2 linked regions of the Homo sapiens genome follow. The protein of the gene in region 2 purifies or fractionates together with the protein of the main gene of each other region. This does not show direct contact. Each region holds a gene or a part of one and is shown on either strand. Other genes may lie near its edges.

Region 1 (3,814 bases), on a different chromosome or scaffold from region 2:
AAGAAACGAAAGACCCCTAGGCTCATGTCCTGACAGCCTCGGTGACAAGCCTCAGCAGCCCTAGGGTCGCATACAGAACCTGCTCTTCTCCCTGTGGGGACGAGTCCTAGGAGCTGTATATGAAATACCCTTAGGCTGAGAAGTTACCGTTTCCTTCCCTGTCCTTCTCTGAACCTAGACAACATATCGGGGCTGCAGACTCATTAGCCTGGATACCATTAAACAAACATACCAAAGTATGTGTAAAGCCACCAGGTTACCTCTGTTCCCAACAAATGGAAGGGACCAAGTGACCTGGAAGGAGCTGGGAAGGAAATGAGGCAGTTCTAGCTGGCTTCCAGCCACCACACCAAGCCCCTCGAGGTGACCATAGCCACCTGCCACTTCTCCCGCAGACTCCTGGGCTGGGAAGCCCTAGACACACTGCTCACCTTTGACCTTGATACCAACACCTTCCAAATTCCACCAGGCAGCCAAGACCCACCAGAAGAAACGTCCAGGTGCGTGGATTTCAGAACACTCACAGGCAGCTGATCTTTCTAGAATGTTATTTATTAAAAATAGATTCTCTATCCTTCCCCTCACCCCTGCGAGCAAAGTGGCCTTTCCCAACATCTTTTCCCAAATGGATGAAACAGGTCTTGAGGACGCAGATGTGGCATTCTACATAAACTACAGGATCAGGCTTTTCTGGGACAGTGGGTCTGCTGGAGCCAAGAGTGGAACAGCACAAGACAACATCAGCAAACCCTGGCGCACCTAACCGCGGGCTGCCATGGATGCCGGGACGGACTGGAGTTCCTCCTGCTCCAGGTACAAGTCCACAAAGAGAGACCCAGCGGCCCAGCAGCAGCCTCCTGGGCACCACCAGAAAGCGATGTACTTAAGGGCCTCAGGCGGTCGAGAGGCAACGTGGCTTCCACATGTGTGGGAATGAGACTAAAAAGCTGGCTCAAAGCAAAATATGAACTTATAGGAAAGGAGGGCCCTGGACTGGGCAGGAAGAGAGAGACTCGTGGCAATTCTAGAGATGGCAGTGCCCAGCCATCAAGTTCTAAAGAGACCCATTTGGGAGTGACTCTGCCTTTAGCCAGGTTGAGCTCACAGACACACAGGCCCAGAGGCCGAATTCGCGGCCAGCTTCCAGGTGTGCCGGGGCCTCTCGTTGCTTTTAACAGTCCAGCCAGAGAGGGTTCAGTTAGTGAGAGTATCTTCCCATGATCAAACACAGATGCCCGAGTTTCTCTTCACTATTTCTTCCGCTTCAGTTTCATATCTTTTTTGTTCTTTGTCTCTCTGTTCTTCAACTTCTTGCTCTGTTTGGGTTCTTGTTTGGCCTCTAACTTCCTTTTCTTGTCACTAGAGAAAAATCAAAAATAGAAAGAATGAAATATGTACAGATCTGAACATCTGAGACTGCTTTAAGCTTGCTTTGCTTTGTCAAAAAGGGTTTCCACCGTCTGAAACTTGATGTAGGCCACCCAATTGGACATTAATGTTCTCTGCAAACCTATTAGGGGGCAGGCATTGTGCTGGGGCTGGGGACACACCATACAGACCAGCTCCTGCCCTGAGCCAGCTCTTAGTCTGTGGAAGAACAAATCTCGATCTTAACACCTGAAATCCGGGTTCTCCTCAGGGTGCAGTACACTCTGCTCCCCTCTCCCAAGACAGACCTAAGGCACCACAAGGATTCCCCACCACCACTCTCACCACTGCAGTGACTCTGGAAACTAGACATATTCATCCCAATGACCCTGAAGACAGTCCTTAATACAAGGCATGAGACTCCAAGGAAAACCCTGCCATACTTTCTGATGTGCTACTATTATTTTATTTTTCCTATATGAGAAGAAGAAAACCCAAACAACAGTAACTCAGGTGACACCCTGCGACCAGCCCCTGGATTCTTCATTGATATCCTGGCATAGGAATCACTCAGCAAACGGCCACCTGCCATTAAGAAACTTACAGGTTAAATTTTGCTCTGGGAACAAATACTTCCCTATAAGGAGACCGTGAAGAGTTCAGTCCAGAGACCATTAACATCATATGAATGAAGTACCTCTCAAAGGAAGAAAAAGAAAGGCCTCAGAGGACTTAATGATAGCTACCAGTATTTTTAGCTCACAAAGTTCAAGCTTTCACATTTACTCAGAGCCATCAAGCACATGAACAACCACACAACACTGGTTTGTTGGGCTCGAGAGGCTTCTCACTACCAGCAATGGCCAAACAAATGGCAGGAAAGGCCAAGCTCTGCAGAGTGAGGAGCTGAGGCCGTCTCCACAGCAAGCATGCTCCCCGGCCTTTTGTTCCAGTCAAAGCCACCGTGCTCAAGGCCAAAGCCATCATGGGCCCTGTGCTACATTTGCCATACTGTACAAAACAGAGACAGGTCACACTGACAGTGGGCTTCTGTGCTGCACCACAAAGCATCTGGGAAATGAGGCCGGCATCGATGCTGGATCCTTCAAGATGCCACAGTGACTAACGGAGACTCTGGAAGACAGTACCTGATTTCTGGGATCTATAGTTCCTAGAGACACAAGGTTTCCTCTTCCCGAATGTTTCCAAAATATAAGCTTTTAAGGAAACCAATAAATAGGGGATTGCCAAAATCTCACCCTCCCCATCAACCCCCAAATCAGCTGTGAAAGCCTCAATTCCAGTGGCTCTGGGCAGGGGAGGCCTCATTGTACTCCCAGGGAAAACTGATGAAGGTTCCAGCCTAAGTTATTTACAAATGCACCACTCTGCAGATAAGAAGCTTGGAGTGAAGATTTTCAAAGAGTGGTCTAGGGACTGCTGGGGTCCCTAAGACCCTTTCAGGTGTCCACAAGGTCAAAATGTATTTGGATTAGTATGAAAACAGTTATTTGCCTTTTTTCATTTTCATTCTCTCACAAATATTCAGTTTTCCAGAGAGTATAAGATATGACAGCAAAATAGTGTCAGTGAAGACACAGACATTAGTATCCGGCTGCCTTCTGTTAAGCCAGATATTGAAGAGATTTGCAAAAATGTAAATGTAAAACAATGCCACTCTTCTCACCAAAATTTTTATGAAAAAGAGTATTTTTCAAAACGACTGAGTCCGTTATTACTGTGAACAAATGAATTTTTTTTAAATTTCTCAGTTTTTCATTTATTTTCTTTTTAAAATTTTTTTGCAGAGACAGGGTCTGCTATGTTGCGCAGGTTGGTCTTGAACACCTGGGCTCAAGCGATCCTCCTACCTCGGCCTCCCAAAGTGCTGAGATTACAGGCGTGAGCCACTGCACCTGGCCAGTTTTTCATTTCTAATATGGGAAATTTCCATAGATATAACCAACAAAAGTCCTTTGGGGACCTTAATTGTTAAGAGATAAAGGAACTCAAAGACCCAAAACCTTGAGAACTGCTGGCTCAAAGGAAGGACAACGTAACAGTTAAACCTATGGCCTTGCAGTGGAGAAACCTGGACTTGATTCTGGCTCCGGCTCTCACTAGCTGTGTGCTTCTTGGGAACTTAACCCCTGAGAGCCTTGTTACTTCATCTTAAAGCAATGACAGTAATAAAACAGCCCCCTTATGCTGTCATCCTGAGGGCTGAATGATGAAAGCCCATAAGCAAGTCTCAGCCAGTGGCAGCTTCTGGACTGTTCCCTCAAGCCCTTCTCCATGACAGGCCCAGTGCCCTGGCATGGCTGACAAATACAAAGAGTGAAGAGATCCATGCCTAAGAGATGGCCCTCCTGGTCTGTGGGACATGCACTGCAAGGGTAATGGCCAGGGGACTCTCAAAGGGAAGAACCATGACTTTTCTGTCAAA
Region 2 (7,797 bases):
ATAATTAACTCTTGGAGATTAAATCAAGGTGGTTAGGGAATCCCTCCTCCAGGTCTCATGTTTTATTTTTAAAGCACTCAACAAAAACAATTCTCAAGTATTTTACAATATCTACCCATCAACCCCAGGACATTTGATTATTTGTAAAAAAAACCAGATTAAGCTCAAACTTCCCTTTCCATACATATAACAAGAAAAAGCTTTGTTGTGATACAATGACTATCATAATTGCATTTATTTTATAATTTGTTGCCACCAGTGTGGCAACTCTCAGCTTCTGATCACAAACATAAAAAGTTTAGCCTATTTTCAACTCCTTTCTGATCTACCAAAAATTTTTAAGAGCCCCTAGCTCATTCTTCCATGTGCAAATATTTAGATTTCATTAGAAAAGTACTTTAGTTCATCTCGGTATCCTTTGTAAACTTATTTAATTCTACCCAATCTTTAAAAGCTAGTGTTCTCCATGATTTCCTCCTCTACTCTTCTCTGGTCTCACTTCTCACCATTGACTCTCAAATGTCACAATCTCCTAGGAAGCTAGTTAAAAGTAAAGATTTCTATGCCCTAAACCCAATGATTCCAAATCTGGTTAATGGATGGGGGCCTAATAATCTTATTTTTTAACAATTATCTCTAGGTGACCAAGGTACATACTGAGAAACATTGCTCTAACCACTTTAACTAGAAGAGCTCATTAAAACTCTCAGCTTGTGGAAGAAAACATCATGTTTCCAATTATTTTTTATAGCTGATAATTCCCAATTCTGTATTTCAGACCAGCTCTTCATCTGAGGTCCAAACCTATTTGTTTTTGTTCCAAATGTTGCTCCTCATTCAGAAATTTGTAGTTCTGTGAATTACTCCAAAATTCACCTGATGGCCAAAGCCAGAAACCCATAGACATCCTATCTTCCTTCTCTTACTCACTTCTCATCATCACCACCTGTACATTCCCTATACGTTGTTCCCTACGTATTCCCTGTATATTGTTCCCACCATAGGCTACATGTTCTTTATTCATCTCTTAGGTTATCATAATAACCTCTGAACCAGTTTCCCAGTACCCTTCCAAATCCATCCTTCATAATGCTGCCAGAGTGGCCTAAGACCAATATCTGGCTATGTCATTCCCTCATTATCTCTTCCAGGATAAAATCCAAACACTTTAGCATGCCGTAACAGGTCCTCCATGGTCTAGCCCCTACTAACCTCTCTAAACGCTCTCCCTGCAATCCCTCATCCTCTATCCCAGACATACAGAACTACTTACTATCCCATTAACTCTTTCCACACGTTCACATGCTGTTCTCTGTTCTGAAAAACCTTTCTCCTTCTCACTAACTGCATGATTCCTCAACTTTCAAGTTTCTACTTAGGAGTGACCTGCTCTGATAATCCTTCCCTTCCAAACTATCACTCCCCTTCCTCAAAGGCTAAATTAAATTCCTACTTAAAAATACTTACTTATTACAATGAACTGTGTTGACCTACTTGCCTATCTCCCCTTCTAGACTGCTAGTTGTTTTTCATGCCTGTATTCCTAACCTACTACAGAACTGGCGCACAGCAAACATGTAGTAAATGTCACCTGAATGAATGAATCCATTTAATGTCTAGTTAACAAGAATGTTTTCTTTTGTATTAACCATGGAAAAACTAAGCACCTTCAGTGTACTAAATAATAAACCAGTCTTACAGACAAGTAGTTTAAAAATACAAGGATTTCTTACGGCCATTTTTATCATCCATCCCAAGTTCATCAGTGTATTTATGAGCACGAATTTCATGTCTGGAGAAATACAGAATTACCACTGAGTCTTTGGTTCCATTTTTATTACAATTTGTACTTTTTTTTTGCAAGCTAGGTTTTTCTCCCACACACTAGACTTAGACCTACACTGTCCAATCCGATAGCCACGAGCTACAGGTGGCTATTTAACGTTAGTTAAAATTAAATAAAATTTAAAATTCAATCCCTCAGTCGCACTAGCCACATTTCAAGCGCTCAAAAGGCGTACGGGGCTAGTAGCTATGATACTAGACAGTGCAGATACAGAACATTTTCGTCACAAGAAGTTCCACTGGACAGCGCTGGCCACAAAATCACAAAAGAACCTTAGAAAAACCTCACTCACTTGGCAAATAAAATTTAAAATTCAGTCCCTCAGTTGCACTAGCCACATTTCAACTGCTCAAAATCCACACCGGGTTAGTGGCTATGATACTGGACAATGCAGATACAGAACATTTTCATCACAGGAAGAAGTTCTACTGGTCAGCGCTGGTGACACAATCATAAAAGGACCTTAGAAAACCTCACTTACTTCTTAGCTCCCACGATCCTCGTGCTCCTCTGCTGCTTAAAGGTTGTGGGTCCCGAAGTCTAGCAAATCACAAGCACACGAGTGAGTGCTAGGGACCTCTGAACCTCGACCACAAAAAGACGAATTCCCCTATGCCCAGAAGAAATGAAGTTCTCCCGGGGAAACCACCTCAAACACAAGAAGGCAACACCTTTTAGGAAAAATATGCTGTCCTATCTTCCAGCAGTGCAAAGGCGGGTAACAATACCAGAGCCTTCGTCTTCCCCCATTCTCAAAGCCCTGTCCCAGGCTCTAAAAGGGAGGCCAAAAGAAAAGACAACGGATATGAGAGACATTGGGGATGTAAAAGGAATAGAAACTAATGGTAATGTGGCGAGGAATTAAATCCAAGGAGGTGGGGAACAGGCAGCAGAACGTGGGTAAAGAAAAAGGGACAGGTGATCTGATCTAGAAGGGTGGGGCCTACGATGGCCTCTGATAAAACCAACTCAGCATGGGACAAAAGCGAGGGACCGCGTGTTCCGGGCTCGACAGCGCTACCTCTAAAGCATAACGGTCAAACCAAGAAACTCACGGCGGGTACAGCACCGAGTCTGGAAGACATCACTCCCTCTCCACGCCTAACAATTTCACCCAAGGGCTCCGGCCAGACCAACGCCACTTCCGCTCTCCTCTCCCGGATGTGGGCTCGGCTCCGCCTAGCCCTCTTCTGAACTTCTACTTCCGCCTAGCAGCTTCCGAGGGGGCTGCGGCCGGAGCGAGTCACGTGATGAGTCACCCTCCGATTCCTCTGAGACCCCGCCCCACTGGGATCGCGACGCGGGACCCGGGAACCTATGGGTGGGGTCTGGAGTGAAGGGGCGGAGCTTGGAGCCTCGGCTGGGCCTCAAAACCCCTGGCTCTCATTCCGAATCTTTGCACAACTCCTCGTGTCCCTCCAGCCTGCCTTCCCCATCCACCCGCCCAGTGGTCTCAGTCCAGATGCACAGGAAGATCATTTACTGCCCCTTTATTCATCTTAGAGAAATTACAGACCCATTCTCACCCGCCTCCCCCCCGGTAGAGAGAAATGGAAGCCTTTCCACGCTGGGGGCGCAGGAATTGGAGGCAGTGGCTGAGCAGGAAAGAAGCCTGGAAAGGGCAGCACGATGAAGACTTAGGACAATGAATAATAGGGGCGGACCTCGCCTCATCGAGTAGCTTCAGGCCTCCACACTTGCCCTGCTTTGGGATTTTTATGTGTGGTCCCGAGGAGAGTTGTTTGATTCTTGAAATCTCTAGACAAACTATGGCTGGGCCTCTCTCCAGGGAAACTGTACTTGAGTCCCTCCTTAAGGGGACTGCGTCGGCTCCTCTCAGAGGGACTGCAATGGTTCCTCCCAGAGGGCCTCCCTGGCCTCATCTCAGAGGGACTGTGACGGGTTCTCTCACAGGAACTGCGATGGCTCCTCTCAGAGGTCCTCCCTTGCCTCATCCCGGAGGGACTGCGATGGCTTCTCTCAGAGGGACTGTGACAGGTTTTCCCAGAGGAACTGTGTCCTCTCCTCTCAGAGGGACTGCAACGGCTTCTTTCCAAGGGACTGAGGTGGCTCTTCTCTGAGGGACTGTGACTTCTCTCAGAAATCCTACGATGGCTCCTCTCAAAGGACCTGTGAGATCTCCTCTCAGAGGGACTGCGATGGCTCCTCTCCAAGAGACTGTGACGGCTCCTCTCCAAGGGACTGTGACGTCTTCTCTCAGAGGGACTGTGATGGCTTCTCTCAGAGGGACTGTGATGGCTTTTCTCTGAGGGACTGTGATGTCTTCTCTCAGAGGGACTGCGATGTCTTCTCTCAGAGGGACTGCAATGGCTTCTCTCAGAGGGACTGCAATGGCTTCTCTCAGAGGGACTGTGATGTCTTCTCTCAGAGGGACTGTGATGGCTTCTCTCAGAGGGACTGTGATGGCTTCTCTCTGAGGGACTGCGATGGCTCCTCCGAGCGGGACTGCGATGGCTTCTCTTAGAGGGACTGTGATGTCTTCTCTCAGAGGGACCACGATGGCTCCTCTGAGAGGGACTGCGATGTCTTCTCTCAGAGGGACTGCAATGGCTTCTCTCTGAGGGACCGCGATGGCTCCTCTGGGAGGGACTGCGATGTCTTCTCTCAGAGGAACTGCGATGGCTTCTCTCTGAGGGACTGCGATGGCTTCTCTCTGAGGGACTGTGATGTCTTCTCTGAGAGGGACCGCGATGGCTCCTCTGAGAGGGACTGTGAAGGCCCCTTTCAGAGAGACTGTGACAGCTCCTCTCGGGGGGACTGCAGTGATTTCTCTGAGACGGACTGCGCCAGCTTCTCTCAGAAGGACTGGAATGGTTTTTCCTAGAGGGACTGCAGTGGCTCCTCTGAGAGGGACTGTGATGTCTTCTCTCCAAGGAACTGCGTTGGCTTCTCTCAGAGGGACTGCGATGGTTTCTCCAAGAGGGGTTATGACGGGTTCTCTCAGAAGGACCGCGTGGGGTTCTCTCCCTATAGAAGCTGGGGTGGTTATGCTCCTTGTGTGTGAGTTTGTCTTTAAGATGTCGGTGCCAGGTTCTCTTCACAGGGGAACCAGGTAGGATTCTTCCTCGGGCCTGAACTCTGGTTCCTGGTGTGGACAAGTTCTTAGACTCCTGGCTGGAGGTTTCATTTCTATAGAAGTTTTTCTTTGATCTGCTACTACTGTCCTTTTGAACAGTTCTCAGAGGCTGCCCCACTGAGGCAGTTTGGAAAGCAATACCACTTTGGGAATCTGTGGGCTTGGGCAGTCGAAGAGGTCTGGGTTGGAAAGAGTAAGCTCTTCTTGGCTGTTGAGCTGATCTGCACTGGACCGTTCCTCCCCACAATATGTCCTCCTGCTTAATGGTTGAGCCTGCTGGCGTTAGCTTGTCAGCTGACCTCTTGTCTCTTTTGATACTGCTTGGTAAGCAATAGTCCCTGGCATTTTGTTTTGGATAATAGTTTTTGCTTGCCCACAAATTGTCTGGCCTTGTCCCGTCCACAGGCTTCCGCCCAACAGAAGCTATAACTCTGTGTGCTGTTTGGAATGCCCGCTTTAGGCTCTGAAAAAGCAGTTGCATGAACTTGGGTTGGGAAGGTTTCTTAGGTTGTCTTTTTAAAGAGGCAGTACTTGTCTGAGTTGCTCCAATCCTCTTCCTTCTTAAATGGGCTGCTAATTCCCTAGAAGGACTCTCTATTGTGGTTCTACTGTTTGTGTAGAACTTTCTGTGTTTTCTAAGTCGCTTGGTGATTCTCTTCATTGGATATTTTGAATCAGAGGTCTTTTTGGTTCTCACTTTAGCCCGTTTTTCATTCTGAGTGCTTTCAGAGTCACTCTCTGGTAGGTTGTGAACTTGAGTGAATTCATAGTGCCCAGGTGCTCTAGTTTTTGTCTTTTCTACTAAGTCAGGCCTGCTGCGTTGTCCTCGCCTGATGTAGACTTGTACAGGAGCAGGGGACTGGGAAGGCCCAGACTGCAAATCTATTGTGGAAGTAGGACTCTTGGAAGCTTGAGTATAGATTTTAGCTTTCCTTTGTGATGGTGATATAGGGCTTCTCCGTATGACGGGTCTATCTCTTTCACGATACTTTGAGATTTGGGATCTTTTCCCAATTCTCAGCCTAAAGCCAAGATGCAACCGAACCTCACCATGGCCTTCAGGAGTGCGTACAAGGTGGAGCTGTGGATAGATAAGAAGATAAGGCCCCGAAGTGGTCTGTAATTTATGATGGCAATTAAGTCCTGAACATCGGCCACACTGTAGGCAGATAGGGTATTTTAGGACTAGACCTGAAGCTAGAGGTGGAGGCACATCGGGGGGTATTTGACTCCTTAAGAGTTTTGCTGCTATTTTTAGCTGCAGATCTTCTAGCAACTGGAACTGTTCTGAGAAGTCAGTCTTGGCCTGGGAAAGATAATTTGGCTTGAGGGAGTGTTGGGACTCAGAAATCCTTGTCTGGGAATCACTCTGTGAGTCCTCACTTTCTTCCATTGGAACAAGATCTTCTCTATCGTAAAATATGCTGAGGGAAGACTCTGACTTTACCAGGACAGGAAGCTGGCCCCCTGCACATGAGACAGGCATATGTTGAATGACTTCTTGGGATATACCATTGAACGTTGAGTTTGTCTTCTTTATTCTCACTCTAGTCCCAGAGTATTGCTGTATTATGGAAGATGTGGAGCCACGTGTCCATATCCTTAAGGCCATTCTTTTCTTATGACCATGATAAAAAGTATGTCTCTGAATATAGTTTTTGACCACAGAAGGCTGAGAAATAGTAACTGGACCCTTCTCTGGCAGGCTCTGGGAAGGTTCCATCAGTTCAGCTGGAATCCCAAATAAATTCTGAATAGATTGACAGGTATCTGCAGTGGCTCTTTCTGCTAAAGATGTTTGAGAACAAAGCTTCCTTTCCATAGTGGTCCCTAAAATATTCCCCAGCATTAGCATAGTGGAGAGATATTTTCTTGGTAGTCGCTGCCTCCAGGCATGACTCTCCCAGACATTGTGTTGTCTGCCCGGGAAAGACTTGATGAGACCTTTCTGAACCCCTGATTCTGCCTGGAATGTCCTAGATCGTGATCTCCAGCTTTGTGGTAGATGTCTCTGAAGTGAGTTCTCTAGCTCCTCCATTTGCTTCCTCTTAGTTGTCTCTTTAGATATTACATCCACTCCTAGAATCTCAGGACATGGGTTTTCCACAATGTTAGCTGTCTTATCGGAGCTTTGATTATGAAGGGCCAAAGGAAAAGTTAAAGATTGTATCATAGTAGGGTCTATATAGGTCTCTTCAGGCTGCAAAATATCTGTCCCAGGGTTTTTTATATCCAAAGCTCTGGATACTTCCTGTATCCCAGAATCCCAAAGTCCTCCTAATTCAGATGCTGTTCTGACAGAGCTTGAAATGAGTGTGGTTGAAGAGCTTTGTAGGAACCTAGAGAAGTCAGTCCCTACTTGTAACTCTTCTGATGTTAACTTCTGACAGTCCCTATTCTGACACACGTGTCCTAGATTCAAATCCTCAGTTTCCATAACTTTAGGAGGCTCTGTTTTTATCACTGTAGATTTCACAGCCTGAAGCCCTTGTTTATGAGTCAATATTGTATGTTCCTCAAATGGAGATGTTTGCGGTGAGGTTAATTCTGCAGACTTCACTTGAGTACATGGACTTGGAGTTAATTCTGCAGGTACTATCAGTTCTTGAAGATGTGGCCTTGGAAGTAAATCCACACAATTTATTGCTTCAATTCCTGATTCTAGGGCTACTCCTATTGGTTCTACAACCTGAGGAATTGGTCCTGGTGCTAACTCCTCAGATTTTACGATTTGAAGGGATGGCCCTGGGATTAACATAGTTTTTACAATTTGAAACCCTGTCAACTCCACTGTTTCCAAAATCTGGTGTTTTGGCTTTGTGATTAATTTTGTAGATTTCACATCTTGCAAACA

The links. Proteins that work in one complex are often made in the same cells at the same time.
Region 1: the proteins of ZNF512 (region 2) and NAT10 purify together in Homo sapiens (affinity purification with mass spectrometry; 2 studies listed by BioGRID and IntAct, with this or other methods). This does not show direct contact.

What each region holds. Positions count from the first base shown.
Region 1 is NC_000011.10:34,143,629-34,147,442, reverse strand, and holds the end of NAT10 (RNA cytidine acetyltransferase), read right to left. Parts: intron 1,360-3,814; coding exon 1,251-1,359; 3' UTR 535-1,250; downstream 1-534. UniProt on the Homo sapiens protein: RNA cytidine acetyltransferase that catalyzes the formation of N(4)-acetylcytidine (ac4C) modification on mRNAs, 18S rRNA and tRNAs.
Region 2 is NC_000002.12:27,578,247-27,586,043, reverse strand, and holds the start of ZNF512 (zinc finger protein 512), read right to left. Parts: upstream 3,003-7,797; 5' UTR 2,932-3,002; coding exon 2,902-2,931; intron 2,619-2,901; exon of another isoform or gene 2,518-2,618; intron 2,387-2,517; coding exon 2,328-2,386; intron 1-2,327. Other genes in the region: SPATA31H1 (spermatogenesis-associated protein 31H1), read right to left, coding at 3,517-7,797. UniProt on the Homo sapiens protein: May be involved in transcriptional regulation.